Regions from separate parts of the Homo sapiens genome. Here all the other regions are linked to region 3. The links come from fine-mapping of genetic effects on gene expression. A gene starts in region 3. Each other region holds a variant in brackets. All regions are shown on one strand. Distances are between the middles of the regions.

The links.
Region 1: its variant is fine-mapped to the expression of LINC01232 in caudate (GTEx, PIP above 0.99). The same link has a PIP of 0.9 or more in cerebral cortex, hippocampus, hypothalamus, nucleus accumbens, prefrontal cortex and putamen.
Region 2: its variant is fine-mapped to the expression of LINC01232 in whole blood (TOPMed, PIP 0.93).
Region 4: its variant is fine-mapped to the expression of LINC01232 in whole blood (TOPMed, PIP above 0.99).
Region 5: its variant is fine-mapped to the expression of LINC01232 in whole blood (TOPMed, PIP 0.99).

The regions. Positions count from the first base shown.
Region 1 is chr13:99,544,374-99,550,831 of GRCh38, reverse strand. It overlaps TM9SF2 (transmembrane 9 superfamily member 2), which reads right to left. Exons shown (of 17, transcript NM_004800.3): 11 at 3,728-3,847; 12 at 1,610-1,667. Among named protein-coding and RNA genes, the nearest start is that of LINC01039, 30 kb to the left of the region's middle. RefSeq lists enhancers at 2,408-2,457, 4,405-4,554. The variant G/A (reference allele first, on the strand shown) is at 3,862.
Region 2 is chr13:99,565,381-99,571,563 of GRCh38, reverse strand. No RefSeq gene overlaps it. Among named protein-coding and RNA genes, the nearest start is that of LINC01039, 8.6 kb to the left of the region's middle. RefSeq lists an enhancer at 4,222-4,721. The variant A/C (reference allele first, on the strand shown) is at 3,401.
Region 3 is chr13:99,496,471-99,502,928 of GRCh38, reverse strand. It overlaps LINC01232 (long intergenic non-protein coding RNA 1232), which reads left to right and starts at 3,623. Exons shown (of 5, transcript NR_110731.1): 1 at 3,623-4,243; 2 at 5,593-5,680; 3 at 6,385-6,458. TM9SF2 (transmembrane 9 superfamily member 2) reads right to left here and starts at 1,457. Exons shown (of 17, transcript NM_004800.3): 1 at 1,152-1,457. The coding sequence starts at 1,322. LINC00449 (long intergenic non-protein coding RNA 449) reads left to right here and starts at 1,866. Exons shown (of 2, transcript NR_133664.1): 1 at 1,866-2,534; 2 at 2,989-3,206. RefSeq lists enhancers at 1,077-1,665, 1,572-1,751, 4,030-4,149, 4,160-4,369, 6,341-6,458.
Region 4 is chr13:99,473,108-99,479,565 of GRCh38, reverse strand. No RefSeq gene overlaps it. Among named protein-coding and RNA genes, the nearest start is that of LINC01232, 23 kb to the left of the region's middle. The variant C/G (reference allele first, on the strand shown) is at 2,843.
Region 5 is chr13:99,465,440-99,471,897 of GRCh38, reverse strand. No RefSeq gene overlaps it. Among named protein-coding and RNA genes, the nearest start is that of LINC01232, 31 kb to the left of the region's middle. The variant T/G (reference allele first, on the strand shown) is at 3,073.

The DNA.
Region 1 (6,458 bases), 48 kb before region 3:
AATTAGAGATAAGATTCTTTTTAATACAAGGAAATATTTCTCTATAAATTTTTTTTAAAACCTGAAAACAATGCTCAATATTATCAAAGGCCATTTTACTGCATCTGTTGCAGTAATTATATGCAGGTGTTTATTTATGTAGAATTGTATGACTAGATTTCCTGTTATTAAATGATCCTTCTATTCCTAGGTGAACACCAAGTCCCCCTGCCCCTGAATACTTGAGTTCTTAGCACGCTCTATTTACCTGCTGGTAAACACCCACTGTTAAGAGTAGGATGAAGAACATCAATCAGAGAAGGGTTGATCAGAGACATAAAAGAAGAACCAGCACAGGATAATTTTTATGAAGCCAAAAAAGGAAGGAGTTTCAAGAAGGTATTCCAATGTTAGACAATACAGAGAAAATCGTTTCTGGATTTGAAAATGGGAACATTATTGGCAAACTTAAAAGTTTCAGTAAAATGATGGAGAAAAATACGAATGACGTGGCTTTACACTGCAAATGTTTACTGAGAAAATGAGAAGAAAGGAGTAGAGACTATTTTTTTCAAGGCATTTTGTTGGGAATAGAAAAGAAATGAGATGGAAATAAGAAGGGAAGATGTTTATGATCCCTTTTTAGGGGAGACATGAGCCTATTTGGAGGAATAAAAGAACCACATAAGCAGAACATGTGAGAAGGGAGCAATGGAAGATGTGTGAGACTAGAGGGAGAGGTGCCTGAAAAGCAAGATTCGGAGATTCTGCAGGAAATCACAGTCTTGGTAAGGACGGACACCTTCGTGAGTTGACAGAGGGAAAGAAAACAAAGGACATGGCTTGAGAAAAGCATAGAAATTTGAATAGAACCGATAACTGAGAAGAATGTGAATCTTCGGTGGAGGTGATAGAGAGAATATTTATCCCAAATGTGTATTAAAATGCTGCTGCCATCACGCTTGCATTTCTAGCCTGCAAATGGAACAGTTCTGGTTTCTAGACTTCATCATCCTTGGCTTTCTTTATTGCTGTAGCCTGTTCACGTGTCAGTTCTTGCCCACCAGAAATGTGCAGGTTTGGGAGGAAGTGGGTTTTGCTTCTAGGACCAGAACCGCATCAGATAATCGAGAGGAGAAGCAGTTCCAGAGAGTGAAGGATTTTTGTTTTGTTTTGGATTTGTGGTGGCTGCTTATTTTTTATTTTTGGTGTATATTACTTTACTTAATGGAATAAACTCTAAAAAATGGCAATGCTTTGGATAAAAATGGGAAAACATATGCTTGCCTGAACTATCTTCAGGATTCCTTCCTGTGCCTGGCTCAAAAGCTTTAAATGCAGCCTACAGAACAACATGTCAGACTGACCACTAAAAACCAAGAAACAGAAAGACTTTGAAGAGAAGGAATTAAAACATTTCTCATGTCTAAAGGTACTTTCCCCAGATAAGACATGTGGTAATCATTTGGCAAACGTTTATAAAATATTTATTTTACCCCTTTTCAAAAATTAAATTTACTTTCTTAGGTACATGATTTAGAGACACGGAGGATTAAAGACTCAACGACTGAAAATTTGGGGACTAACATGTAACTATGTTAAGAAAGTAATTCTTGAAAAATTCACTTACCCAGGACAAAGAAATGATGTTAATAAAACATTTGTTTTCCACTTCTCACCTCCAAAGGCTATAGAAGAAAACAAAAGTTGTATAAATACAGATTTTCTTTAAAGCAAACCAAATATCCATATTACAAGTCTGATATTTGCCAAACTGTCAGACAGCAATGAGTACTCATTCCTAGAAAATGGTACTAGCAAATATAATATGATATTCCTTTATTAAATAATCCAAATCTGAGACATACAGGATGGGATTCCCTAGGTAAGTCCTGCTCTAGAGAATCAGAGGCAAGTCATCAAGATCAGTTCTTCTTTTCCCCTCACAACCAAAAGAATCCTTAAATCCTGAGCCAGTATCAATCAATGGGCCTAGGCACAGGAAGGGCACACGGGATTCTCACTTATCTTGCAGTCAGTTTCAGAATTTGTTATAAAACTGGGAACCGTCAAGCCTGATGTGCAACACATTTACACTTCCACAGTAGGCCAACTCTTCCTCTAGCACTGTGGTTTCTAGGAGGAACTGTGGTTCCTAGGAGGTGCGTGTGTCAGATGAGGCAACTAAGAAGAGTAGAAGGGTTATGACCATTTGACAGACCATGTTTGCTAATATATGTTTTACTCTCCTTTGCCCCTCTCCAACTTGCTTTTTTTTCCAGTTTAAAGAATTCAAATACTGAAGTAGCTAGAGTGAAAAATGAAAGTACACGTCTGCTCCCAGTTTAAGTCAGAAATGAAACTGGCTGAGATCTCAGAACAGCTGTGATTTTTAAAAAAGTTTTAACATAGTTGATAGGCAAGTTTAAGTGCCACTTGCCCTAAAAGAAAATAATAAAATTACATATACACATAAGATCATATATATGTATCATGATTTGAACTCACAATGTTTCTGATAAACAGACTGTTATGAAATGATTAATTCTGGGTTTACTATAATTTCAGTCAAAATTCAAGTAATACAGGATCTGCAGCTGGGAGACCTGAAGGATGGGGAGGCATTAGTGAGTGGAGTGCAGATGGGAGCAGGGTGTGGGAAAGCAGGCAGCCTGTCCGAGGAACCGACAGAAAGCCTGTGTGGCTGAAATGGTGAGAAAGGGGGAGTGTGGCATGAAGTAAGGCTGGTGTGGCAGGCAAAGGGCTGACTGTATTTTGTATGCATTAAAATCCGTATGATGGCCCTAATCCTACCTCCTTTAGTAAAGGGGAAGAAAGAACTTGACAAAATTCACAGAAATTAAAACACACTTAAAACACACATACATACAGGGCTTCACATACTCAAGAGAGAACTGTGTCTGACAAGGTCTAAGTTAATCTTTTACTGGGGGCTGAGACTACCCAACCCCACATTAAGGTTGTCCACGTAACTCTACTGTGCTTCACCTCAAAACTTTTTCACATTGCTAGACCGTGGGGAATCACTGTATATCCCAGACGAGACTGTGGCATTCCCGAGGAGGCCAGCTCTGGTCCCTGCTGACCCTGCCAGCTGCTTTCTAAGCCATCCAGTCCCATCTCAGCCTTACTCTGTGGCCGTGAGCCTTTTGTTTCACTGAACTTTATTTTACTTCTAGAATGCAAGAACACAAGAGATTGTGACTAATGATATTACAAAAGTAACTTTCCAGGTCTCCAAAATAATGAGATCTTTGTTTACTTGAAACAGTGTATTTTTATAAATATTAAATTGATACAATGTAAGTATGACTTCTCATATGTAAGAAAAGGTACACCTAGATGTACTAGTTGTTTTAGTGAAAAAAATCAGTGATACTCATTTGTATACTTTTCTCCTTTATTAGTCTATATGTGCTTCTATGAACACAGCAAATCTAAGCTGTTCAGCCCAACCTGTTAGCCAAAGCTTAAAGAAAAAAAGAGGGAGGGGATAGTGGATAAGTGGCACAATTTGCTTGTTTCACTAAACATTTTCGAACAAATAAATTTTGGGATAGTAACTCATGACACAAAAGGAATCACCAAGCAGGCTCCTTTTAACTAAGAACAGACCCCTATGAGGCACACTATTTACAAAGCATCACCATCTGATACCCAGGTCAGATCCACAGCCGCAGCAGAGTCCCTTCCTGATCAGACGCCAGTCACAGTGGCTTTGACTTACACTTATAGAATCTGGCAGCAACATAGCCTGCAGGGGTGCCCAGCAGCACCCACAGGACCACAGCACACGTCATCAGCGCTCCTCGGTTGGCAGGTGACAAAAATCCCAGGCAAGCGAAAACTAAAACACAAATC[G/A]TGAAAGGCTGTACATGTTATTACTCTGTTTCCTTTGCTGTGAAATGATAGAGAAACCCTCTCATTTTTCAAACAAGAAAAAAATACAACTTCACGCAAAACCATGTGCTCTCCTACCATGCAGCTCTACACAATCTTAGTAATATTTACTGTACTGCACCAATCTGATCATACATGAGGCAAACTTCACTTTGGAAGTTTCTTCTCAGAGTCCAGAATGAGAGATCACATCCTTCCTGTGATCAGGGGAGGCTGACTGGATGCTCAAGAGTGCATTTGACTCTTCTGAGATTCAAGTACAGCCTTTAAAATTGACATAAGTGAAAATGTTTCCACTACAAAATATTCCCACTGTTCTTTCATTAAAAAATATGGGGGTCCTCTGGGGGTAAAAAAAAAAAAACCCAAAACCTTACAACATTCAAACAGAAGAGACATATATAATCTAATGAAAGAACAAAATGAGGGAGAAAGATTTCATACGGCCATTAGCTTTTCACAAATTACGGAAGGACCTTGTCAGCAATACGGGGAAACCCTGGCCCTACCTTATTCACGTGGTTAGCTTTGTTTGCTCTTCCCTATGTAAGCCTTCCTACTAATGAGAATTAAAATGCTATATTATATTCATAGAAATTCCCAGCTTTAAGCTGGGGCTCAGAAGTTATAAGGTGCTCAGAATCCCAAGGTGAGTAGGATACTGCTGAGAACTGAGTTTCAGGAGGCTCAGCAAGAAAATCCCCATTGTTTCCCCCCCTATTGTTTCCCCTAAAACGTGCATGACCAAGCACGTATGTGAGCAAGCACGCGCACACACCTCTGACAAGCACCAGAGTCATGATGAGCAGGAAACACATCAGGGTAGCTTTAGAAGATGTACAAGATTTCAGCTAAAATGCAACCCCTTTCTCCTCCTCGACCTGAAAAATGGACTGCCCTTCGGCAGAAAGTTCCTATTTGAGGACTTAAGGAAAATTATTCCCATCGTATTCTATCCTAGACTCTCTGAAACTTTCCTTCCTTAAAAGTTCACTTTTCTAGCTGACCGCAATAAAAACCAGAGCATCGCAGAAGACAGCTCCTAATAAGATTTGAAAGCAGGAGTTGGCTGGGTGTGGTAGCTCACGCCTGTAACCCCAGCACTTTGGGAGGCCGAGGCGGGCGGATCACGAGGTTGAGAGATTGAGACCATCCTGGACAACATGGTGAAACCGTGTCTCTACCAAAAATACAAAAATCAGCCAGGCGTGGTGGCAGGCGCCTGTAATCCCAGCTACTCAGGAGGCTGAGGCAGAAGAATCACTTGGACCTAGGAGGTGGAGGTTTCAGTAAGCCAAGATCACGCCACTGAACTCCAGCCTGGTGACAGAGCGAGGCTCCGTCTCAAAAAAAAAAAGAAAGAAAGAAAGCAGAAGTTTATCTTCAAACATTCATTCTGCTCTAAGTCTAGTTTGGCTCTCTGTCACCCAGTGCCTTCACCCTACCACCCTCTGTCCAAACCTTTTTTATGACACCTTTTCCTGACCTATTCTCTTTAGTATGACTTAACTTCTCTTTAGTATGATATAGTTACAAATTCTAGCTCTACCTATCAAAATTGTATCTCCTTAAGTTGTTAGTAGATTAAAAAAAAAAGATATCCTAGTCAGTCTTCAAACTGAACCTGAAGGTGTGAGTTTGGTTCCCAAACTTATTCAGTGCCAGACATTTGAAAATGATACTGCTCTTTGCAAAGCATTTATATAATTAATTTTATCATAAAAATTTGGAACAACTTTACTAACAAAAATAACTGTGGTATTATGTATTTAATATGTAATCAAACATAAAAAATAAATGTTTACTAAAAAATTATTAAAGGTTAGTTTCTGAATTCTCCCAGTATATTCATTTGTTGCTATTTATCAGTAGCAGGCATCAATAAAGTAAAATACATTAAATAAAGGTAAAATTTAGAAAATTCTATTCATAAACCTTTTTTATCTTCCAATTAAGGAAACTGGAAGACAGTGGAATTAACATATACCCAGAGGTAGTTTCAGAACAATCCCTGTGGCTATCAATACCTCTAAGGAACATTTATTTAAAAAAAAAAATTGTCCTAGTTGGCAAAAATTTAAATACAATTTCTGAAGTCGCTGAGGTAGCTCAAAGAAGAGAATCTTTTTATGGAGGAAGGAAGGTCTTTCCTACACACTCGCTTTCCCTAGAGGAGAGAGATCCTGCTTCCCAAATCCTCCCCAGATGAGAAGGATCTACACAGTGCTTCCTGCCCCATCCCTTCTTTTCCCACCCTCCTCCCTCCGTGGAAGCCAAGAATATCCTGGAACCCTAACCAGACTGTGCCTGCCCACGATGCCTGGGTAAAAGAGACCCTAAATGGTCCCAGTTCTGGGCTGTTTAGACTCAGATGCTGATGGTCTTAAGGACCTGTTCATCTCCAGCCCAGTGCCTCCCTGACAAAGGCTTGGTCTAGGAAGAGCTGAAGGGAGAAACCAAGAGTCAGTCTTTGGGTGCAACTAAACCTGCCCCAAGTCACTTAGATTTTGAGAACCTAAAGGATGCTCAGAAATAATCTGGCTTACCTACCCACTTAG
Region 2 (6,183 bases), 69 kb before region 3:
CCTTAAATATATCATTTCCAACTTATATCTCATATTTAACTCTTTTCAGAGAAATTAATGACCTGTGACCTATTATAGTGCTATTTATTTATCATGGTCAACACCACTCACGTGGCCTAGACCACTTTTGGCTAAAAATATCCGAAGGAATTAACAGGACTTTTTAGAGCCATGCTTTCTTCTTCACTAAATAAAGGAATTAATTATATTATTTATTTATTTATTTTTTGAGATGGAGTTTCGCTCTGTCATCCAGGCTGGAGTGCAGTGGCGCGATCCTGGCTCATTGCAACCTCTGCCTCCTGGGTTCAAGAGATTCTCTTTCCTCAGCCTTCCAAGTAGCCGGGATTACAGGAACCCACCAACATGCCCGGCTAGTTTTTGTATTTTTAATAGAGACAGGGTTTCACCATGTGGGCCAGGCTGGTCTCAAATTCCTGACCTCAGGTGATCCACTCGCCTCAACCTCCCAAAGTGCTGGAATTACGGGTGTAAGCCACCGTGCCCAGCCAAAGAATTCATTATTAATGAGAATGTCAAATAATCATTAGGTCAAAAAATAAAAGGGAAAAAAGAATCAAATTTGAGCATGTGTATATGAAGTTCAAGAGAGTGAGGTGAAGAAATCCAGTGGAGGCCGGGTGCGGTGGCTCACGCCTGTAATCCCAGCACTTTGGGAGGCTGAGGTGGGTGGATCACGAGGTCAGGAGATCAGGACCATCCTGGCTAACATGGTGAAACCTCATCTCTACTAAAAATACAAAAATTATTTAGGCATGGTGGCGCTCGCCTGTAGTCCCAGCTACTTGGGAGGCTGAGGCAGGAGAATGGCGTGAACCCAGGAGGCGGAGCTCGCAGTGAGCCGAGATCGCACCACTGCACTCCAGCCCAGGCGACAGATCGAGACTCCATCTCAAAAAAAAAAAAAAAAAAATTCCAGTGGAATTCCAAAAGCAAGAGAATGTGAAGAAACAGTGATTTTTAGTGTTTAGACTTCAAATTACATAGTAAAGGAGAGAACAAATCAGTCATAGGAAACAGGTTTGGTTCCATCAAAATATCTGAGAAAGAAAAGCATGATTTTCTACATATAGAACCTTGTAGGCAGAGAAATTATGGTCACCATCTACTTGGGCTATAGAACACAAAATACAAATATGAAAAAACTTTTTTTTTTTTGAGACGGAGTCTTGGAGTCTCGTATCGTTACTCAGGCTGGAGTGCAGTGGCGCGATCTCAGCTCACTGCAACCTCTGCCTCCTGGGTTCAAGCGATTCTCCTGTCTCAGCCTCCTGAGTAGCTGGGACTACAGGCATGCACCACCATACCCAGCTAATTTTTGTACTTTTTAATAGAGATGGGGTTTCACCGTACTGGCCAGGCTGGTCTTGAACTCCTGACCTCGTGATCCACCCAGCTCAGCCTCCCAAAGTGCTAGGATTACAGGCATGAGCCACTGTGCCCAGCCAGAAAAAACATTTTCTTAATGACATATATTTACATATTAATGAAGCCCCAGAATGTCCTGCTATTCATAGGGAGAGACCTTTCTTTCTGAGGGTTTTAAAAGGTTTAAAAAACCTTTCCCAACAGCTGAGCTTTTTTTTTTTTTTTTTTGGAGGCAGGGTCTCACTCTGTTGCCCAGGTTGGAGTACAGTGGTACAATCATGGCTCACTGCAGCCTTAACTTCCTGGGTTCAAGTGATCCTCCTGTCTCAGACTCCTGTGTAGCTGGGACCACAGGCACGTGCAACCATGCCAATTTTTTTTTTTTTTTTTTGTAGAGATGGGGGTCTCATTTTGTTGCCCAGGATGGTCTCGAACTCTTGGACTCAAGCAATCAATCCTCCTACCTCAGCCTCCCAAAGTGCTAGGATTACAGGCATGAGCCATTGCATCCACCCCACCAACCCTGCTTTTTTTTTTTTTTTTTTTCCTGAGCAGTTTTGGTTATATCAAAAGCAAGACTTCTCAAATAAAACAATGATCTGATTACAGAACACAAACCAAGCCCAGGAAAAAACCCTTTATCCTCTATGGGGTATAATTCTCCATTTGCTTGCAGAGGCCTTGTCATGGCGCCAATACCCTTGTAGCCTTGTTAATCTCCAGGCTTTGTCTGTCAGGTGTGGGAGCCCTGGCCAGAGGAGTGCCACCCCAGACCCTAGACACTGAGTTCTGTAGGAAGACCCCCTGAAACTATTGCTATGGAATAAAAGATGAAATGCTCCTGATTATTGTAAATACAAAGTTGCACGCAGGATTGTGTAAAGACAATGCCAGGTTGGACTGCCAGAATGAGCCAACAGCATGTGATGTGCTTCCCCCTGCAGAGAGCCTATGAACGGACGTGCAGTCAGGGAGGTTTCACATCACCAAGATTCCTATCCCAGAAAAGCAGATGTTCATAGCTCTGGGAATGGAACGTGACCCTTGTGGAGAGCCTATAAACGGACGCATGGGGGGTGCCTGTTCATATGGATAAGACAGGGCTATAAACGCCCTCATCTTGCCTTCTAGGCCTCTTTAGGGTTAAGGCATACTCCCTTCTGAGAATTTCTGGTCTAACTGGCTGTCTAGCTTCATGGCCTGTTTCTATGGATTGTTTGTAACCAGCTTTTGCTGCAACTGTTACTGCTGATTAATATCTTGCTAATCATAGGTTATGGAAAGACTGTGTTTTCTGTTTTAAGGCTCTGTTAAAAATTACTGACACACACACTATATTGTAAATTCTTATCTCTGTATACTGTACTTCTGCATACAGATGTTATGTTAAAGAATTACTTCATCCCCATGTGACCATCTCACTTCATAATCAAATGACTCTAAATCCCTCACTAACCTACTCCCACCCTCACTAAACTTAACAATAAATGCTGGTAAATCCAGTGCATTGGCGGCATCGCAGGACCAGAAGGCAGTGACCCCCCAGGACCCAGCTTTCACTATCTTGTGTGTGTGTCTATTATTTCTCGACTTGCCGATCCGCCTAGGAACAAGGAAAGAGCCCCGTTGCATTGCAGGATGCTGGCCAGATCCCGCAATAGAGTTCCTTCTGGCGGGGGTCACTGACATAACAGTGATCCAAGAGTGAATTCCCTGTGGTGCTTGGTTCAGTGGATGGTTTTGACTTTACTGCCGAAAGGATTCTAGTAAAAAAAAGAATCCTGTTGTTCTCACTTGATACAGCATCTTTAGAGGAAGTGCATTATTATGGGCCAAATTGTTTCCTCCTAAAATTCATATTTGAAGCCCTAACTCCCAGTACTTCTGAAGGTGACTGTGTTTGAAGATAGGGCCTTTAAAGAGGTCACTCAGATTAAATGAGGTTATATGTATTACAGGTGGGCTCTATCAGTCTGACTGGTGTCCTCATAGGAGGAAATTTGGACACACA[A/C]AGAGACACCAGGGATGTGCATGCATGGAGAAAAGACCATTTGAAGACACAAGGACAGGGAGAAGGTGGCTGTCTGCAAGCCCAGGAGCGAGGCCTCAGGAAAAACCAGACATGTGGACACCTTGTGCTTGGACTTCTAGCATCCAGAACATAAGAAAATACATTTCTGTTGTCTAAGGCACCCATTCTGTGGTGCTTTATTATGGCAGCCCTTGCAAACTAATACATATATTAAAATAAAACGAGCCAGAAGTGGTGGCCTGCACCTGCAGTCCCATCTACTTGAAAGGCTGAGGCAGGAGGACTGCTTTGAGCCCAGGAGGTCGAGGTTACAGTGAGCTGTGATTGCACCACTGCACTCCAGCCTGGGCAAGAGTGAGACCCTGTTTCTAAACACAGACACACACACCCCTAAAACAGATCTATATTAAAATGCTTTGTCTTGATGTTTTTATCAGGTCTAAAACAAGGCTTTTGGCAACATGAGACTCATACTTGGTCCAGAACTTTGAAGCAGCTGCATTTGAAAGACTTTTAGGTTTTCTTCGCTTGTCACCAAAATCTGTTACAAATTCCAATGTGCAATAGAATTTGTGTATTAAAACAAATTTATATGACCAATGTCTGAAATAGTTTGCTTAAGGAAGCCCTTAATCACTTCTATGTGTCTTAAGAAGTTTTAAGGTTACGATTTTTATGCTTTCGTCACACCTATAGGAGGGCTTTTTCTTTTTGTTTTTTTGAGATGGAGTTTTGCTCTTGTCACCCAGGCTGGAGTGCAATGGTCTGATCTTGGCTCACTGCAACCTCTGCTTTCTGGGTTCAAGTGATTCTCCTGCCTCAGCCTCCCGAGTAGCCGGGATTACAGGCACCTGCCACCAAGGCCAACTAGTTTTCGTATTTTTAGTAGAGACAGGGTTTCACCATGTTGGCCAGGCTGGTCTCGAACTCTCGACCTCAGGTGATCCACCCGCTTCGGCCTCCCAAAGTGGTGGGACTACAGGCGTGAGCCACCGTGCCCGGCCAAGAGGGCTTTTTCTAATTTCCTGGATAGATCATATGAGCAGGTGGTTTGGCATGGATGGCTTGGGTCACGGAGGGAGATGGACAGCGCAGGGGTGTGGTTTGTGGCAGCTCTAGCAGGTTCCCCTGCGGAGGAACATGCCTGGAGCAGGGAACCAGCCAGCGTCGCTGCAGCGGTGCAGGAGGACGTCACCGCAGGCGCCATGGGTGGAGGGGGTGGGCAGGAAGCCATGGATCTGAAGACTTGGAGGATACTCGGTGACCGACTGAAAGGGGCACCCAGGGGACCTGTGAAGCTCCGCTCAGGGGATGAAGCAGCTGACGGCCCCACCGGAGACGGGGCCTCTGGGGGAGCGGCAGCTGGGGACGGAGGGCAGGTGCGCTCACTTTTGTACACCATGAGCTTAGTGTTCCCGAGGACCACGCAGGCTGTGCAGCAAGCAGGTGCTGTGAGTGGAGATGGAGGCGCTGACTCTAAACACGAGAGTGAAACTGGACAGAGAACACCAAGTGAGAAGTAGGTCAAAGAGGGAAAGATGGAATAGGGCAGCAACTCCCGCTGGGGGCAGAAGTGGAGCCCCCAGAGGAGACTGACAGAGGCGGAATTGAGGGGAAGAGAAGTGGGTAAGCAGCGTCTCCTGTTTTAACGCACTTCTCCAGAACACGTGCAGGGCAAGCACATGTTTGTGACAATCTTCTTGCGATTCTATGAGGAAGGTTCAGACCCAGACTATGAGGAACACGGCTTTCAGGACAAGGTTTCCAAGAGAGACTGAGTGTCGTGTCAGTAAAGAGCTGGTAAAATTAGGGCTGGACCAGGTGGTGGGGGCGCTGAGGAGCTCGGCAACAAGGTTACCAGCAGAATCCTCGGAAAACAAGAAGCCGATGGCAAAGCCAGGTGGGAGAGGCAAGGAGAAGAGGGAGAAATCGGTCAGACGGGTTGTTTTCACTAAAAATGAAAAAAAAAAAAAAAAACAACAACTAGCAGAAAGTTGGACGTGTTTTAAAATGGAAAGCATGGAGAGGGAGGGTTTAAACACAGAAGGGAAAATAAAGAGGAAAGACTCTCGAACAGACAGGAAGAAGGCGGGGTGAGGCTGTAACTAGGTTCGAGGTGAAGGTACAGTTGGAGAAACTGTGGGAGACACCAAGGGGCTACGGCGCTGCCCGAAAGCTTGGGCGGCCTTCTTGATGTGCGGGGCAAGGAGGCAAATGCAGACAGAATGCCGCCCTTAGCCGGCGAGCAGGACGACCCTGCGGCACGGCTGGGTCTCTAGAAATGACCTGGGCAGATAGAAGGCATGGGAATGGCAAAAGGCCATTTCTCCAGCAGGAAAACACTGCAGTTACCTAGCTTCCCGGTCTTGGCTACACGTCCCCCTCCTTCGCAGCTGCCTGCGGCTATCATGACTCATGGAGGAGACTTCTCCCCGGGGTTCCTGGTCACTGGGGTCTCACAACATGCGCAACGCAACTGTTTCTGTCCCGGGCCACACTCAAGCTAAGGAGACGGACCCCTGCTTCTAACCGCCTGCCATGCTGAGGGACGCTTTCCTGGAGAACTTTCTGGGAAAGCCGCAGCAGCGCACCCCTCAGGACGGCGGGATCCAAGCCCTGGAGAGGGGTCTTTTCTCCACCGCCCTCCTCACTTGGCAGGCCTTCCTTGTCACTGTCTCCTTCCTCGGCTTTCCACCCTCCCTCCCTCCTAAGTCTTTTCCTTTATCACTCCAATTTCATTTTCCCAACTGCCTCTCCACTGT
Region 3 (6,458 bases):
AGAAACTGCAAAATGTTATGAAAAATTTAAAGCTTATCTAATGCCCTAAAATAACCTCAAAATTCACAGCTATAGTAAAGCTAACTGTAATAAACACCAGCTTAAAAAAATCAAACTTAATAAATAAGCCTATTTATAGATTGTAAACGTTTGTTGAACGATTATTTGAATTGTTGAAATCATTAAAGGTTTCAAAGAGATCCTCATCCCCCAAATGTTAAGTTTTAAATAAACTTAACGAAATAATTGTGTATGTATACTGTAAAGCCCTACACCATATAACCTAAAAGCAGGTTACTTTATTTACGCCTCTTTTACTAGCAATTAAACTGAAAACCTTGAGTGTGAATGTTGTAAGAGATCAAAGTTTTCAAGACTTGCCCTAGGAAAACACCAGTTTCTCCCACCATTTGCCCCTTTTAAGTGTTTAAAACCATCTCAGAGAAAATAGTGAGACCTCGTATCTTTTTTTGTGTATTAAAATCTTTTACACTTAAAACTCAGAAATCAAGTGCCTCAACCATTACAGCAACTCTTTATTAATGCACTTTGTGTGGCTCTGGGTGTTATACTCCACAAATAAGGAACCAACTTCTAATTGTGAAGCGAGATATCAAAGTCCTAGAAAGAACAAGCTCTCCTAACCAACTAGAAGGTTCCAGGAAAATGCAATTAAACAGGAAGCAATGAAGTTAAAAGCTAATGGAAACTGTTAACTAGGCTGAGTGTTGCTCACATGTAGGGAGTCGGTCACCCGCTTCCTCAGCGTACATGTTACAGGGCTGTGAGCGAACACTCACGCGTGGACCTGCATACATCCAACTCCAAAGCTCTGAGGCGTGAAGCCCAACTCCAAGGGCGCTCCACACGGTCCCTGTTCCAGGAAAACTGAATACAGCTGCTCGTGCCACTTGGCCCGCAAGACGGGAGGCGAGTCTGAGGCCCACTGCGTCCTCCAGAAACTACCCTTGCAAGGGCTGTTTCAGAGCCCCCCACCCACAGCCCAGCAGACCCCAAAAGCTTCTGGGGAAACTCAACCCCACCCGCTGCTACGCCCCCTTCCCTCGCTCCCACCCGAGGATCAGCTCCCCCGGATAGGGACGACTTCCCCTTCCAACAGTGCATCAGAGGGCTCGTCAGGCCTCACCCACCTTGCACTCGTCGCTCTTTTTTTCTTCGTCGCAGAAGTTGACGGGCGCCAGGCCGGGCAGGTAGAAAGCGCCGCTCCGGCGCGGGCCAGGAACCGCCCCCAGCAGGAGCAGCGACAGCAGCAACAGCCGCGGCCACCGAGGTGGAGACAACACCGGCAGCCTCGCGCTCATGATAGTTGTTTCGGGGAAAGGGCAATCAAACCTAGGGGGTCAAGAGGGAAGGAGGGGTGGGGAGTCTCGGAGACGACTACAAGGCCGCCAGAGATAAAGGAAGCCGGCCCCCAGAAGGCTAGTTCCGGTTGCGCTAGGAGACACCCCGGGTCCCGCAACAGAAACCGAAGCGGACCGCAACAGAGCATGCGCACCGCCGTCTGCACATGCTCAGTGAGAACGGTCGCAGGCACCAGGAGGAGTTTCCGGGAGGGAGCGGGGGCGAAATCCACTTTCCGGGTTTTCCGCGCGCCAGCTGAGGTGGTTGCTGGGAGAGGTGGTTGCTGGGAGAGCTGTTCCGGCGCTCACGTTCCAATTCCAAATTACAAATTCCGATCTAGAGCTCCCACGCTTGGGGGCTGTGGAGCGCTCGCCAGCCGCTCCCCGTTTGCTGCTGGGTCTTACGAAGTTCTCATATCCATCATACAGTTTCTTTGTCACACTGTCCGCGGCACGCCAGTCCCTATGACAGAAAGCACCTGCGGTCTGTCTGGAGGCGGAGTTGGTGGCGGAGAGAAAAAGTTCTGGAGACACCTGGTTGGGAGCAGGCTAAGGAAACAAATGGGGAGGAATTAGCCACAAATCCTCAAATAGACAGCTACTCAAAGGCATCTTCACGGACAATTTCCAAGCATTGGATGCAGTGGTGCATTCTTGCATTGGGCAGTGATTGTGTGCACACATCTCTTTAAGGGAGAGTGGAAATGGGGTGAGGAGGAAAATGGGAGTAGGATAGAGTGTAGCGTTGACATTTATTTTCTTTAAAGGAAGACCCGAGCATACCTGAGAGCTCAGTGAAGAAAGTAGTTCTGGCGAATCGGATTAATATGGTATGATCAGCCTTTAGCAAGATTCTATCACTTTTCCCACTGATGATGTGAGACGGTGTCCGCGTGTGTAAGTGCACACACGTGTGTGTGTGTGTGTGTTGCATCTTCTGAGTATTTTTCAAGGAGAAGCTTTTTAGTGATCTGAAAAAGTCAATTCAGTTAGCCACTAGAGTTCAATCAAAAACTTCGGAAGAGTGCATCATCTTAAAGTACATAAGAGAGAATCATGACCTCCAGCTCAGAATTCAAGAATAGGCAGGTTTGTGAAATAGTAAGCTCAGAAAGTTGAGGGCCAGTGAACTCCTATTTCAAGTTCTTGCGGGTGTTTGTACTTTTTTCCCAGGTAAGGTTTATAACTTTCATCAGATTTTCAAAGGGACCTAGGACCCTGCAAATTGATCCATATAGTGGGGTAGCCAAGTTAATCAAGAGAACTGGGAAGTAGAAAAGAACGTTCATCTTAAGGTTGTTGTGAAGATTAAATCAAAAATGGAGGGAAAGTGCTGAGCACATAGCTTGGCCCAAGGAATGGCACTTTTTTTTTTTTTTTTGATAACAAAAACTAATCTGGTAGGGCCTGAGCAGAAAATTGTGCCTAGGTGGCTTCCCTTTCATGTCCTCTCCCTCAAATAAATCAACATATTCGCTGAACTTTGGGATAGGGAAAAATTGTAAAATATTCTGTATTTGGAAGTCATGGAGATTTCCAATATAACAAAAGGAAGCAGACGTTTTCTCCAAATATTAAGAGGAGGAAACAAAAATTAACATTTTTGCTCACTATCTTCTTTTCCTAGCACCACTGAAACTTGACCTTCGGCCGGCGCGGTGGCTCACGCCTGTAATCCCAGCACTTTGGGAGGCCGAGATGGGCGGATCACGAGGTCAGAAGATCGAGACCATCCTGGCTAACACGGTGAAACCCCGTCTCTACTAAAAATACAAAAAAATTAGCCGAGCGTGGTGGCGGGCTCCTGTAGTCCCAGCTACTTGGGAGGCTGAGGCAGGAGAATGGCGTGAACCCGGGAGGCGGAGCTTGCGGTAAGCCGAGATCGCGCCACTGCACTCCAGCCTGGGCGACTGAGCACGACTCCGTCTCAAAAAAAAAAAAAAAAAAACAAAAAAAAAACTTGACCTTCATTATATCTCACTGCCCTCATCCCAAACATTTCCTCTCCCAGTTTTCCAGGAAACGGCATCGCTGCCCATCTCTTTTCAGGCCCCAACCCTGGAGAAGAACCTAAATTTCTCATTTCCTCACTACCTACCTCCAGTCCTTCAGCAGGTCCCGTTGGTTGGGCTGCTAAACTATGGGCTAAATCCTTTCAGTACTTTCCATGCCCACAGCTACCACTCTGGTCCAAGCCAAATTCTTAGTTCCCCTGGACTTCTTACTGCAGTAGCCTCTCAGCTTCCACTCTTGGCAAAATCAATTTTATAAAACCTTGAAATCCCTTAATACCACTCGTCTGCTTAAACCTCGGCATCCCACATTTACCACTATCAGGAAGGATCACGTTTGTTTGTTTGCTGTCTCATTCCCCCATTTATATGTGAATTCCACGGGTAAGGGCCTGCTCCTACATCCCACACCTCTACATCCACAGAGCCTAGAGACCGCAGGCGCGGGGAAAGCACTCCACGACCATCACTGGCCAGGCCACAAGAGTGCTGGATCTAAATTTGGAACCGGACTTTCAGAGCTGAAATAAACCTGAGGTTTTCCAGGGGCTTTTAACCTCCTTTTACAGCCAAGGATGCGCCTAAGAAAGGGGAGAGGCTTCCGTGACTTCCTGCAGTAACGCAGCCACTAGAGATTGAGACTACAACGACTTGGGAGTCTAAAAGTCTGCAACCTTTTCCACTCCAGAGCTCAATGTTTCCTCAATCCCCCGGGATCGGCATCAGCAAAAACCCGGAGAAGCGGAGCCTTTCTCAAAGAAAATGACCTCCAGACTCATGCTACCATCTCGACCGGTGCAAGTATCACGCATGCGCAGGGCCGGCCGCCCGGCCGCACCTCGCCAACTCCTACTCGGACACGTCATCTAGGTCGGCCTGGGTCTGGTGGGAGGGGCCGGGGGCGGGGCTCGTACGCGGGGCGAAGTGGTCCCCCTACTTCCGGATCCGGCCTCACCTGGCCAACGCCTCATTCGGGGTTCCTTGGTTACGTGGCTGCGGTGTCTACCCGGTGCTGGGGCGTGGCGGAGAGAGACCGCCCCGCCCTCCACGCAGGCCACAAAATGGAGGCCCTGCCCTGTGGGCTTTTGTGGCCTGGGCGCTGTCGTGCCGAAAGACGAAAGTGACAATTCCAGTTGCAAACTGGAAAGAAATGGAGTTTTTCCTTCATTCTCCCCATGATCGTGACGGTCCTTTTCTCAAAGTACTAATACTTTTAATGGGACTGTAAAACTTGAGGGATATGACTCTCTCCTCTCCTCTGCTTCAGATTGCATTTGCCAACTCTGATTTACCGCCAATACTATGGTGCTGTCATATTCATAGAGACAGAAAGTAGAGCAGTGGTTGTAGAGAGAGTCTGCAGAAGGAGGGATGGGGATTTACTGTTTAATGGCATACGGTTTCAGTATGGGTTGGTGAAAAAGTTGGGATGAATGGTGATGACTGCACAACAATGCAAATATGCTAATGTCACAGAAGTGTACACTTAAAAATGGTTAGACGGTAAGTTTTCTATTATGTATATTTTACCACAATTTTTTTTTAAATGCAACAGAGTCTCGCTGTTGCCTAGGCTGGAGTGCAGTGGCAGGATCTCAGCTCACTGCAACCTCCGCCTTCCAGGTTCAAGCGATTCTTGTGCCTCAGCCTCCCAAGTAACTGGGATTACAGGTGCCAGCCACCACGCCCAGCTAATTTTTGTATGTTTAGTAGAGATGGGGTTTCACCATGTTGGCCAGGCTAGGCTGTTCTCGAACTCCTGAACTCAGGTGATCCGCCTGCCTTGGTCTCCCCCAGTGCCGAGATTACACGCGTGAGCCACCACGCCGGGCCCCACAGTTTTTTGTTTTTGTCTTTTAAATTTTTTTTAACAGCATTTGTGTCTTTTTTTCTTTTTCTTTTGTTTTTGAAACAGAATCTCACTCTGTCACCAAGCTGGAGTGCAGTGGCGCCATCTTGGCTCACTGCAACCTCTGACTCCCTGGTTCAAGCAATTCTCCTGCCTCAGCCTCTCCAGTAGCTGGGGTTACAGGCACGCACCACCCCGCCCAGCTAATTTTTGTATTTTTAGTAGAGATGGGGTTTCACCATATTGGCCAGGGTGGTCTCCATCTCCTGACCCCGTGATCCACCTTGCCTTCCCAAAGTGCTGGGATTACAGGTGTGAGCCACTGCACCCAACCTAAATGGCATTTGTTTCTTCCACTCCTCTCTGCCAGAATAATTTGGACAGCCTTTTCTGAGTTTCCCATGACGACTTCTGTATAAGATTGTCGGATATAGCAAATAAAAGTACAGTATACCCAGGTAAATTTTAATTTCAGATGATCAATGAATAATTTTTTAGTATAAGTACATTCCAACTATTACATGGGACATAAGGGTATTTTATCTGATCACCCTACTTTTGTGTCAAGTTAAAATTATTAGCAAAAGTGCTTCCGTTTTTAGGAAGTGCACACTGTACTCTAGTAGTTAGGCAGGAGAACAGGGTCTGCGAGCAGGGAACCTAAGGCCGTTTCACACTGACTTCCTAGAGCCATTTGGAAAGGAAAACCCTAACTTTCCACTCCTAAGTAACAAAAGGCCCAGAGGCCACTCCCTTTGCAAACCCCCACCTTTTCTGTGCCGCAGCTGGAAAATTGAAAGTGCCTCTGATTGGTTGCTTTCTGCAACTAATCAGATGTTTGCATAGAGTGTAACTTTGTAACTTCACTTCAGCCTCTGATTGGTTGCTGTCCCCAACCAATCAGACTGATTGTGGGCCAAGGCTTCGTTTGAATAGAAGTGCAACTTTGTAACTTCACTTTAGCCTCTGATTGCAGGCCACCACTTCATTTACATGGGGTGAGCACCAAGTAAGTGGCCAATGGGAAACATCTAGAGGGTATTTGGACCCGAGAAGATTCTGTATCTGGGGCCCTTGAGCTGCTGCTCAGCCTGCTCCCACACTGTGAAGTGTACTTTCACTTTCAATAAATCTCTGCTTTCCTTGCTTCATTCTTTCCTAGCTTTACTGTGCGTTTTGTCCAATTATTTGTTCAAAACGCCAAGAACCTGGACAACTTGCTGTCCGCAACCAATC
Region 4 (6,458 bases), 23 kb after region 3:
AAAAAAATTTTAAATCTCAGTTTTTTCCTAAGCAAACCAAAACTTAATAATAATGCGACAACTTGACCATATAAAAGTTTTTGGTTTTTAAAAAAATAAATCCTCTTATTGTGACTTACACAGATGGTTCATCATATGCTTGGACTTTCTGGTTTGTCCTGAACATCCCTCCTTCTTAAACAACCAGTCATTTTACCCTAGGACTAAATTTATCATACAAGATTCTTTCTCATATGAAATTATTTCTCTTTAAGTTTCTTACCAAAAAAAACCCTCATTATTTTTATAACTTTCTTTACATCTCTCTTATTTCCTGGTTCCTTTTACCTTGTTTTATACATGACCTTTAAATAAGCTTTGAATTAGACAAAAAATTGTTCAAATGTTTTTTTTTTTGAGACAGAGTTTCGCTCTTGTCACCCAGGCTGGAGTGTAATGGCACAATCTCTCCTCACTGAAACCTCCACCTCCCAGGTTCAAGTGATTCTCCTGCCTCAGCCTCCCGAGTAGCTGGGATTACAGGCACCCGCCACCATGCCCAGCCAATTTTTTGTATTTTTGGTAGAGACAAGGTTTTGCCATGTTGGCCAGGCAGGTCTTGAACTCCTGACCTCAGCTGATCTGCCCACCTCGGCCTCCCAAAGTGCTGGGATTATAGGCATGAGCCACTGCGCCCGGCCACTGTTCACCATTTTTTTTTTTTTTTTGAGATGGAGTCTCGCTCTGTCCCCCAGGCTAGAGTGCAGTGGCGTAATCTCAGCTCACTGTGAGCTCCGCCTCCTGGGTTCATGCCACTCTCCTGCCTCAGCCTCCCGAGTAGCTGGGACTACAGGTGCCTGCCACCATGCTCGGCTAATTTTTTGTATTTTTGGTAGAGACAGGGTTTCACCGTGTTAGCCAGGATGGTCTCGCTCTCCTGACCTCATGATCCACCCGCCTCGGCCTCCCAAAGTACTGGGATTACAGGCGTGACCCACCGTGCCCAGCTAAGTTCACCTTTTTTAAAAGGACAGATTTTTTTTTTTTTTTTTAGAAATAATGTTTTCCTATAAATATATTTTTATTGGAAAATACCCAAATAATGAAATATTTATCATTTAGTTTAATATAACTTTAGATTCTAAATTATGAGTTTGTCTACAAGTATTTATCCTATTACATTTACCTAATTATTTCATTTTAATTGTTTACCTAGATTATTTATGAAAACTGTGATAGTCATCATTTAAAGCTATGGAACCGCCATTGCAAAATTGTAACTGAGACGTGAAAAGATTTGACCTAACTGACTCCATTTTGCTTTTAACCTCCAAGGTGTCCTTGTTCATTCCTGGGCATAGGCCAAACTAACTTTGGGAGGAACTTAGTTTATATTTTAGCTTGAAACAAAGATGATAACAAACCTTACTGGCTGTGGACTAGACCACCTAAAGCCATAAGATTAGAAGTTATGGTAATCTTACTAAATTTGAGATGTAGCTATTTTTATTAAACCAATATCAATGTCTTATTTATTAAAGACTACACAAGCAAAGATCATTCTGTTTTGGGTTGGGTTTATAGTTTTGTAACCCCTATGCCAAATTTTGATGCTTTGTAGTATCTGGTAGGGATAGGTATGAAATTGAATCTCGGTCTCCAAAAAGGGAGAATTATTATGAGGCTAGACCATGTGATGCTCTTACAGTGCACTTAAAGAAAAAAACTTTTTTTTAACAAACATATTTCTAAGTGTCTAAACCACACTCTTCCTTAAAAACCCGAGAGTAACCTCTGTTGCAATAACTATTTTAGTTGAAAAACACACCAGGTAACACAATACAAAAGTAAGCCGTTTAAGAGCTGAGATGAACTTGTCTGTTTACATTCTTGGGGTTCCATAAGGAAAAACAGGTTTCTCCCTCAGAGGGAGTCTGGCGCCTTCTCAGTTTTCTTTAAGGAACCCCAGGCTATTATAAACTATTTTAGGTTACCCATGCTACAGAGAGTGCAAGAGAAAGAAGACACAGCAGAAGTAAATGAAGAAAACAGAATTCGGTCAACTGAGAAGAAAAAAACTTTTGCTGAAAAAAAAGACAAGATCCTAGGGGAAAAACAAAAGCAAAAATATGAAGGCCTTTTAAATACAAACACACACACATGCACACATACACACACACGCACACATACACACACGCACACACACACGCACACATACACACACATGCACACACACACCCACATGCACACATACACACACGCACACGTACACACACACGCACACATACACACACACGCACACATACACACACACGCACACATGCACACATACACACATGCACGCACACATACACACACGCACACATACACACACGCACACATACACCCACGCACACATACACACACGCACACATACACACACGCACGCACACATACACGCACACACATACACACACGCACACATACACACACGCACACATACACACACGCACACATACACACACGCACACACACACACACGCACACATACACACACGCACACATGCACACACGCACACATGCACACACATACACACACGCACACATGCACACACATGCACACATACACACACATGCACACACACATACACACACGTACACACACATGCACACACATGCACACATACACATATGCACACACACATGCATACATACACACACGCACACATACACACACACTTCTTGAATGTTAGCTTTTAATTAAGCTGACTTTTCATCATTGAGCTCCTTTAAAAAAAATCTTTTAAGATCTCATCACCATATTTCAGCTAGGACAAATTGCTGCTATTTCAGAAGTACAGCCATTGCTCTCTTGGTTGGGCCT[C/G]GCTAGCAAAAAGGTGGCCTTGTTATGTAAATAAAGTCCCTTAGTAGTCAAAATGAAAAATCTTTCCTCTTTTTTTTTGGTTTCCTTTTCCGGCCGTTTTTCTCCCCCACCATACCACCTTTTGTGTGTGTGTGGGGGGGGGGTGGCGGGGTGGAATTTAGCCACTTCAGAGGCCTTGTTCCCCATAATTTGGAACTTTCCTTTGGATTTGATCAAGCCGGATAGAGTTGATCAAACCCAGTGGGAAAAAGACTGAAACAACAACAAGAACAGAAACAAACGACAACAACAAAAAACGCAGTTAAGCAAAACAAATGATCGCACAACTTATACAACTATTGAGCGCTCTAGTGGTGAGGAGAAATTAAGACAAGCTGGTTGTTAATCTTAACTTTAGCCAAGACAAACCCCAATTCAGTTACTTACCTAGGGATGGGTCTCAGGCTGAAGACTGCTCTCTATCACCCTAAAAGCAGGAAAAAACCCTCATCCTTCTTGTTGGAAGTGAGCTCAAACTCCATAAAGGAGTTACCTGCCTTCCGTTGTCATGGAAGCAGGAAAAACTTGCCTTCCTTGTTGGAAGCAAGTAAAACTCAAAAGAAAAAGGGAGTTGTACAGCAAAATAAACTTTAGATCTTGACCAAATTTTGGGAGATCAGGGATTCTCTGGAGGGGGTTCTCCCAGACCTCAGCAAATTGTCCTATTGGCTTGAGCCATAAAATTAGCTCATGCTGGTTCCAAGCACCAATAGATTTGTCAAAGGTCAGGGGCACCTCCGCTCAGAATCCCTTCATGGTTACCAAAACTTGAACCCAGAAAATTTGAGACAGGTCTCAGTTAAATTAGAAAGTTTATTTTGCCAACATTGAGGACACACACTTGTGACACAGCCTCAGGAGGTCCTGATGACATGTGGCCAAAATGCTCAGAGCACAGTATGCTTTTATACATTTTAGGGAGACATGAGACATCAATCAACGTATGTAAGGTGAACGTTGGTTCAGTCCAGAAAGACGGGACAACTCAAAGTGGGGAGGGGGCGTCCAGGTCATAGGTAGATAAGAGACAAATGGTTCCATTCTTTTGGGTTTCTGGTTAGCCTCTCCAAAGAAGGTAATCAGATATGCATTTATCTCAGTGAGCAGAGGGGTGACTGAATAGAACGGGAGACAGGTTTGCCCTAAGCAGTTCCCAGCTTGACTTTTCCTTTTAACTTAGTGATTTTTGGGGCCCCAAGATATTTTCCTTTTACACACTTTTAAACAACCACATCTCGCGAGGACAGTACCAAGAGAATGATATTTAACCATTCATGAGAAATCTGCACCCATGATCCAATCACCTCCCACCAAGCCCCATCTCCAACACTGGGGATTACATTTCAACATGAGATTTGGATAGGGACAACATCCAAACTATATCAGACTGGGTCTTGCTCTGTTGCTTAGGCGGGAAGTTTGACAGTTTCCTACAAAGTTAAACATACACTTACCATATGACCCATTAATCCCACTCCTAGGTATTTAAACCCTAGAGAAATGAAAGCTTATGCTCACACGAAAATTTGTGTGTAACTACTTATAGCAGCTTTATTCACAATCACCAAAATTGGAAACAACACAAATGCCTTTCAACCAGTAAATGAATAAACAAACCATGGGAACAGTCATACAATGGAATAGTACTTAGCAATAAAAAGGAATGAACTATTGATACATACAACACCACGGATTAATGTCATACACACTGAGTCTTAGGAGGTTACATTCTCTATGACTCTATTTATACGACATTTCAAAAACCTAACACCACAGTGACTGAAAACAGATCAGTAGATGCAGAGATTCAAGGGAGGGAGGTGTGACTATCGAGGTATATAAGAGGGGATTTTGAGGGGGTGATAGAACTGTTGGATAGTCTGATTTTGGTGGGGGCCACACAAATCTATACATATCTTAAAATTCACAGGAAGATTTTTTAAAATATACATATATATTTAAACAAAAAAGAATGGAAAGACACACGTGAAAATACCAACAGTGGGTTATTTCTTTGCAGTTGAATAAAGGTGATAGTTGAATAAAGGTGATTCCCCCCTTTTGACTATGTAATATTTCTATTTTTAGAAATAATGAACACACGTTTTCTTTGTAAAGAGATGTCATCGGCCGGGCGTGGTGGCCCATGCCTGCAATCCCAGCACTTTGGGAGGCCAAGGCAGGCGGATCACCTAAGGTTGGGAGTTCAATACCAGCCTGACAAACATGGAGAAACCCCATCTCTACTAAAAATACAAAATTAGCTGGGCATGGTGGCGCATGCCTGTAATCCCAGCTACTTGGGAGGCTGAGGCAGGAGAATCGCTTGAACCCAGGAGGCAGAGGTTGCGATGAGCCAAGATCGCACCATTGCACTCCAGCCTAGGCAACAAGAGCAAAACTCCATCTCAAAAAAAAAAAAAGAGAGATGTCGTCGTATAGAAAGGTAATATATATATTTATTTACGTATGTAAATGCATTTTGCTATTGGACTAACTTGAGTGATGCCTGGCCTTGTTTCATACTGGTTCAGCCTTCTGTGGGTAAAGGAGCTTCACCCCATTACTGGAGAAACATCTTTTGGATGAGATGTTTCTTTTACTTATAGAAGAACTGGCAGTGCTCTCATCTCTCCATCAATCTTCTGCTTTGCCATGGGCCATAGCGTGAAAAGTGCTGGCCTCCACTGCCTCATTAGGTTTCCCATTAGCATCCATTAACCAACAACTTTCATTTCTTGGTGTGCAGCCAGCATTCCTTAGGAAATGAAAAAAACATCGACGTGATGATGCCATCATCGACTAAATATCGGCTTCCCGTCCTCATCAAGTCTGGATTGTCTTGCAGGACTTTCATCAAGTATTAAGTATTAGGAAGCTGCCAGGAGTTCCAATGGCACTTGGCTTATTTGATTTTGCTTCACAAAAATAAACAAAGTTACACTGGGCGAAATTTTTAAATTGTTTTATCCAAAGATCTAGAGAGAAGAATGTAAACCAAGTGCATTTGGCCTCCTTAGTCAGTTTTTGCAGCACCCACGACAGAATTCTGAGATTCTGAGGAGCAGCATGGACCTCAGATGCACACCCCTAAGGGAAGATGGCAGTCAACACTCCCAGCCACGCTGGGGGATCCCAGCCTCCCGCATCCATTCCTGCCATGACTACCAGCAGTAAGTGAGGCCACAGGCATCCCACAGGGCAATGCTGTTTTTCAAAAATCCACAGTTGTTATCAGACACTATGCTTCAAGTTGGCAATTTGGTAGAGCAATTGTCTGCCTTTGAGAATGACACCACACAGCACAAAGATATCACTAAAGCCATTAACAGGCATTTGTAACCTCTTAAAGATTTGGCCTCGACTCCCATTATTAGTTCTGGAACCTAAAATAAAATCAAATAATTCTTTTTTTTGTTTGTTTGTTTGTTTTGTTTTTTTCAGGATGGAATTTTGCTCTTGTCGCCCAGGCTAGAGTGCAATGGCACGATCTCGGTTCACTGCAACCTCCACCTTCTGGGTTCAAGTGATTCTCCTGCTTCAGCCTCCCGAGTAGCTGGGCTTACAGGCACGTGCC
Region 5 (6,458 bases), 31 kb after region 3:
TGTGCCAGCTCAAAGGAAGATAGTGGCTTTTCCCTCCTTCCTTCCCTCCCTTCCTTCCTTCCTTCCTTCCTTCCTTCCTTCCTTCCTTCCCTCTCCTCCCTCCCTTCCTTCCTTCCCTCTCCTCCCTCCCTTCCTTCCTTCTTTCCTTCCTTCCTTTCTTATTTCCCCTTCCTTCCTTTCTTCCTTCCTTCCATCTCCTTCCTTCCTTCCATTCTCCTTCCTTCACTTCCTCCTTCTTCCTTCTCTTCTTCCTACCTTCCTTCCCTTCTTTCTTCCTTTCTCTTTCCTTCTCTTCCTTCCTCCCTCTTCCTTCCCTCTTTCCTGTATTTTTTCCTTCCTTCCTACTCTCCTTCCTTCCTTCTCTCCTTCCTTCTTTCCTTTTTTTGGAGAATCCAGAATGAGGACGTTTCAAAGAGGCCATGCCAGATAATGCAATGATCTTTTATTAGGAAATTACAGTCAGTGATTCAGTGCAGGAAAATGAGTCACTATATTAGGCTAAAAGCAATAGAAATTCACAAAAGTAACAGGGATGAATGTTCTACCAGGAAGGGAACAAGTTACTAAAATAAAATGCCATTGTTCTTAAATATAACCCACTTCTAACTGTGCAAGATTTCCAACTGAGAAATTTGAACTCCCTGATGATGCCCTTAAATTCTACTATTGTTTTTATGCTGGGTACAATGTGACATATTTTAATAAAAAAAGTAATATAATATTTCATATGACCCTCTTTTGTATACATAATTGTATTTTCCCCCTTTATTAAAATTTAATATATATATATATATTTTTTTCTTGAGACGGAGTCTTGCTGTGTCGCTCAGACTGGAGTGCAGTGGCATTATCTCAGCTCACTGCAACCTCTGCCTCCTGGGTTCAAGCAATTCTCCTGCCTCAGCCTCCTGAGTAGCTGGGATTACAGGTGCGCACCACCACCATGCCCGGCTAATTTTTTGTATTTTTAGTAGAGACGAGGTTTCACCCTGTTAGTCAGGCTGTTCTCGAACTCCTGACCTCGTGATCCATCCACATCGGCCTCCCAAAGTGCTGGGATTACAAGCATGAGCCACCATGCCCAGCCCTAAAATTTAATATATTACTGTCCAAGACATTATTAAAATGACGTGCATACTCGGTGTCTCTCAGAAAATAAAGTTCCAAGAATGATGATGGGTCATTTGACATTTGAAGAAAAGCATCTGTTTTTGAGAAAATTTTCTTTCCTTAACACATTTATTCATTGAATTCACTCACTCTTTCAGGTGTTTTGCATAGTTCTCTCTGGTAATAAAGTGAAGGAAATTTACCTGAAGATCAAGACTGTTTCTTGGCCGGGCACGGTGGCTCACGCCTGTAACCCCAGCACTTGAGAGGCCAAGGCAGGCAGATCACTTAAGGTCAGGAGTTTGAGACCAGCCTGGCCAACATGGTGAAACCCCGTCTCTACTAAAAATACAAAAAAATTAGCCAGGCGTGGTAGCACGTGCCTGTAATCCCAGCTACATGGGAGGCTGAGGCAGGAGAATCGATTGAACCCAGGAGGCAGAGGTTGCAGTGAGCTGAGATCGCCCCAAAGCACACTCCAGCCTGGGCGACAGAGTGAGATGCTGTCTTAAAAAAAAAAAAAAAGGACTGTAAAGACTGTTTCTTGTAAGTTGCATTGTCATCATAAAGCTGGATAGGGACTCAGAGCCCCCAGTGGCATTGAGGACACAGAGCTTGAGAGAGAGAATTATATGGTGGGGGACATAAGAGAACAAGCCTAGTTCATAAAAATTACTTTCCTAGGATTCCCGATATTAACTCTTTCCAGCTCCCTGAAGAGAATTGTAAAGGTTTCCATTCTGTTGAATAGAAAACATGAACCGAGTGAGGTGCTCTGCTAGGGAGCTGTGGGAGATGCCAGGCCGGTAGTGTAGTTGTTGTCCTCTGGGAGTTTGCAATAAAATAGGGGAGAAGAAGGTTTTGGTCTGGTTTTTTTGAGACAGGATCTTGCTCTATTATCCGGGCTGGGGTGAAGTGACACCATCACAGCTCATTGTAGCCTTGACCTCCTGGGCTCAAGCAATCCTCCCAGTTCAGCCTCCCAAGTAGCTGGGACTACAAGTGCATGCCACTGTGCCCAGCGGGCTCTCACTATGTTGCCTAGTCTGGTCTTGAACTCCTGGCTTCAAGGGATCCTCCCACTTTGCCACCCCAAAGCACTGGGATTATAGGCTTATATGAGCCACCACACTCAGCCAAGAAAAGACTTTTGATCAAGACTCTCATTAGAGACAAGCAATGGAAGTGCAATAATTAGGGGCACAAACAAAGTACAACTGGTCAACTGCAAGATAAAGAAATATAGTCATTTGACCAGGTAGGTCTAGGAAGTCAGTGAGTAGGATGTTAGCAGGTCTCTGAAGGTGGTTAGAATGTTGACCGATGAGGTACTGAGAGAAAAAAGGGAAGAGATTCCTGTGCTGGATCAGGCACAGAAGATGAAGAATGCAGGGTGTAGAATGGCTTGTTTAATTGGCCTGGCCTTGGGAGCCAGATGGTGTGAAAGGGAGGGGCATGTAGTGAATGGTGATGCTGAGAAAACCAGCGGGAGGCAGATGCAGTGTCTTGAAGCCCTTTTGGATCTTAGTATTTATTGTAATGGAGCGCCACTGAAGGTTTTCAAGGAAAGAAATGACAGATTGATATGTGTTCTTTAGAAAGACAGCCCCTGGCAGGAGTGTCTAGAATAGACTGTTGCAACAGAGCCATGACTTGCACAATGCCAAGGAGACCATTCACAACTCCATGCAGTGCAATGTGAATGGTGCCTTTTGGAATTATGTGGTGGGCAGCCCCAGGGAGTGGAGATGTCAGAGACAGAGTGATAGAGGTAGCAAGTAGGGATCTTCGATTGCAAGCAACAGAAACCGACCCTAATTAACTTAAGGAGGAAAAAATACATTGGAAGGATGGGGGTCATTCAAAGAGTTAAAAGATAAGAAAATACTTAGAGGAATCAGAGCTACTTCATAGATCTAATGGAGAATCTCTTCAGGATATTGCCATGGGGACAAATTACTT[T/G]CCATCACTTCCAGTCTTTTTGACACTCTACTCAAGAGTCAAGTTCCAGGGAGAGAGGATGATTGATTTATTTAAGGTCATGTGCTCTCTCCTTGGCCAAGAGACTATAAGGGCATCTTGGCCGAGTGCTGTGGAGCCCCTGGGAACAGTTTTCAGGTGTGGTTTGGCCAATTTCTTTTTTTGTTTGTTTTTGCTTTGGCCAATTTCTGTGAGACAGCACTGCAAAGATACCATCTCAATACTTGGCACAAAGGAAGTCCTGAAAAAAGTGATATTTTCCCCCTTTTCCCTGCAGGGAATCTTTGCAAATGTACCCCTTTACTTGAGATAAAGCATTTTTATTTATTTGTTTATTTATTTATTTATTGGAGATGGAGTCTCCTTCTGTCGCCAGGCTGGAGTGCAGCGGCACGATCTCAGCTCACTGCAACCTCTGCCTCCCGGGTTCAAGCAATTGTCCTGCCTCAGCCTCCTGAGTAGCTGGGACTACAGGCGTGTGCCACCACGCCCAGCTAATTTTTGTGTTTTTAGTAGAGACGGGGTTTCACCATGTTGACCAGGATGGTTTCGATCTCTTGACCTCATGATCTGCCCACCTCGGCCTCCCAAAGTGCTGGGATTACAGGCGTGAGCCACCTCACCCACCCTGAAATAAAGCATTTTAAAACATGCTCAAAGATTGAAAAAAGCTCTATAAGGAAAAACATGTTTATCATATATATATATATGAGCGGTTGCTGTGGAGCTAGCTGAGTTCCCTCTGTTTGCAGTGACTAACTTTATTAAGGCATTAGCAAACCTTGTTCCAGGAAAGCCTTGCCTTTCGAATGAAAATATCCAGGATTGGGTGAACATAGCTTGAGTCGCCCTATTTGGGTAATGACTCAGATTAGATATCCAGCTCTCAGTAATGTTAGTGTTTGCTTGGGTTTATGAAATATTTTATTGATCTAGGCATTTTGCTTTTTTTTTTTATTCTCCACCTGTTTGTGGGTAGATTTTTATGACTGGTATCAAATTCCTTATTTTACACGTGGACCTATATTTCATGCTTGATATTTGATAAAGGAAATTGAGCTGTTCTTTCTATTGCTTTAAGAGCAGTAGATCCTGGGGGTGAATGCTGTTGTGTGACACATCAAGACCAGCAAAAGCACAAGAGAAATGAGCTTTGAAAAGAGAGGTAATTACCTAAAATTAGATAAAGCCAAAACTGTTCTGTTAGGTAAATCCTGCTGCTAAATTGCCTTTAGCAAGCTAAGCATGGGATAATATTATGTTCTACCAAAAAAAAAAAAAAAAATCTAAAACCTTAGCCACAGGAAAGTGTGCTGAATATCAAGTGTTTTCAAGCGTTCTCTTATTTTTCTTTATTACTTTCCTGACTTGAAAAAAGACATGGCAAAGTGTAGTGACAATTGATTTAGGGCATGGGAAAGGGTGACCCGATTTTTAAAAATGTTCTCATAAATCAACAAATTAGTCTCCTTGAGATCATGAAGTGATGTTTCTGAGAAATTAGTGGCCTCATTCTGGAACCTAGTGGACAGGCTGTGTTTTCAAAACTAACAGCTTGTTCTAGTTGCCTTGCTTTAGTTGAAGGCTTAGTACCTCTACCAAAAGCTTCAAAGTAACGCAGGCATTGAGCTTCCCCAAGAAAAGGGCAGTAAAACAAACAATGTAGAAGCAAAGAACCAGGTGTCTTGGCAACATTGTAATTATGGCTGCTTGTGACGTTCTACAGGGATTTCTTCTTCAGGACTATGAATTTGGCCCATCAGGAGAACTTTGGCTAGCTAATACCTGCTGGGGAAATGTATGGGATCAGATCTCTGATTTATGAGATCCCTTCCAAGTGGGATCTGATAAATTATTAAAATAATAATTTTGAAATCTGTAACAATTTGAGAAAATACTTATGTCATAATGTTCCATGAAAGAAGCAAGATTTAAAAAATAAACTTTTCCGTGATTACAACTGTGTAATAATTATGGATATGTACAAACAAAGTCTCTAAAACAATAGCTAAAAATGAAAAAGGCCAGGTGTGGTGGCTCACGCCTGTAATCCCAGCACTTTGGGAGGCTGAGGAGGGAAGATAGCTACAGCCTGTGTTCAAGACTAGCCTGTTCCCATCAGCAGTAGACTGGATAAAGAAAATGTGGTGCCTGTACACCATGGAATACTACACAGACATGAAAAAGAATGAGATCATGTCCTTTGCAGAAGCACAGACGGAGCTGGAGGCTATCATCCTATGCGAACTAACATAGGAGCAGAAAACCAAATGCCATATGTTCTCACTTATAAGGGGGAGCTAAAGAGTGAGTAGATACGGACACAAAGAAGGGAAAGACAGACACTCGGGCCTACTTGAGGGTGGAGGGTTGGGGGAGGGTGAGGATCAAAAAACTACCTATTGAGGGCCAGGCGCAGTGGCTCACGCCTGTAATCGCAGCACTTTGGGAGGCAGAGGCAGGCAGATCACCTGAGGTCAGGAGTTCAAGACCAGCTTGGCCAACATGATGAAACCCTGTCTCTACTAAAAATACAAAAATTAGCTGGGCATGGTGGCGCATGCCTGTAATCCCAGCTATTTGGGAGGTTGAGGTAGGAGAATCGCTTGAACCTGGGAGGTGGAGTTTTCAGTGAGCCGAGAATGCGCCACTGCACTCCAGCCTGGGCAACAGAGCAAGATTCCATCTCAAACAAACAAACAAACAAACAAACAAAAAACCAAAAAAAAAAACCAACAAACACACACAAACCCCAAAACCCTACCTATTGGGTACTAGGCTTATTTATTACTTGAGTGACAAAATAATCTGTACACCAAAACCCCATGACATGGAATTTACCTATATAACAAACTTGCACATGGACCCTTGAACCTAAAATAAAAGTTTTTTTAAAAAAAGACTAGCTTGAACAACATATAAAACAATTTAAAATTTTTTTTAAAAGAAAAACATTTAATTTCTGGGGAGATTTTAGAAAACGCTTAGTTGATTTTGCCTTAATTCTGTTGTAGTTGATGCAAAAAGCAAAAGAAAGGCAAGGTGACATTCAAAATATTTTGTATGCTGTATTCTACACTGTGGAGGCTGCTCTAATAAGCAGCTGTAGTAATTACAGAGGGCACCAGATGGTGGCATGTAAACACAGCTTAGAGAGCCAGGTGGGCACTGGGCTTTTCCCACTGGGGTTCCAGAGTGGCCTCTCCCCCTCCAAGGTCTGGGCCCAGTCTGTTTGGGGGAGTGTCAAATGCAGATGGGAGCTGTTGGAGGCCCAGAATGTTGCTGGAGAGGGGTAGACACCAGGGCAGCCCTTCAGAACGCCCTACCTCAGCCCAGAGCAATGGGTGTGTTGGAGGCACTTGATGTGT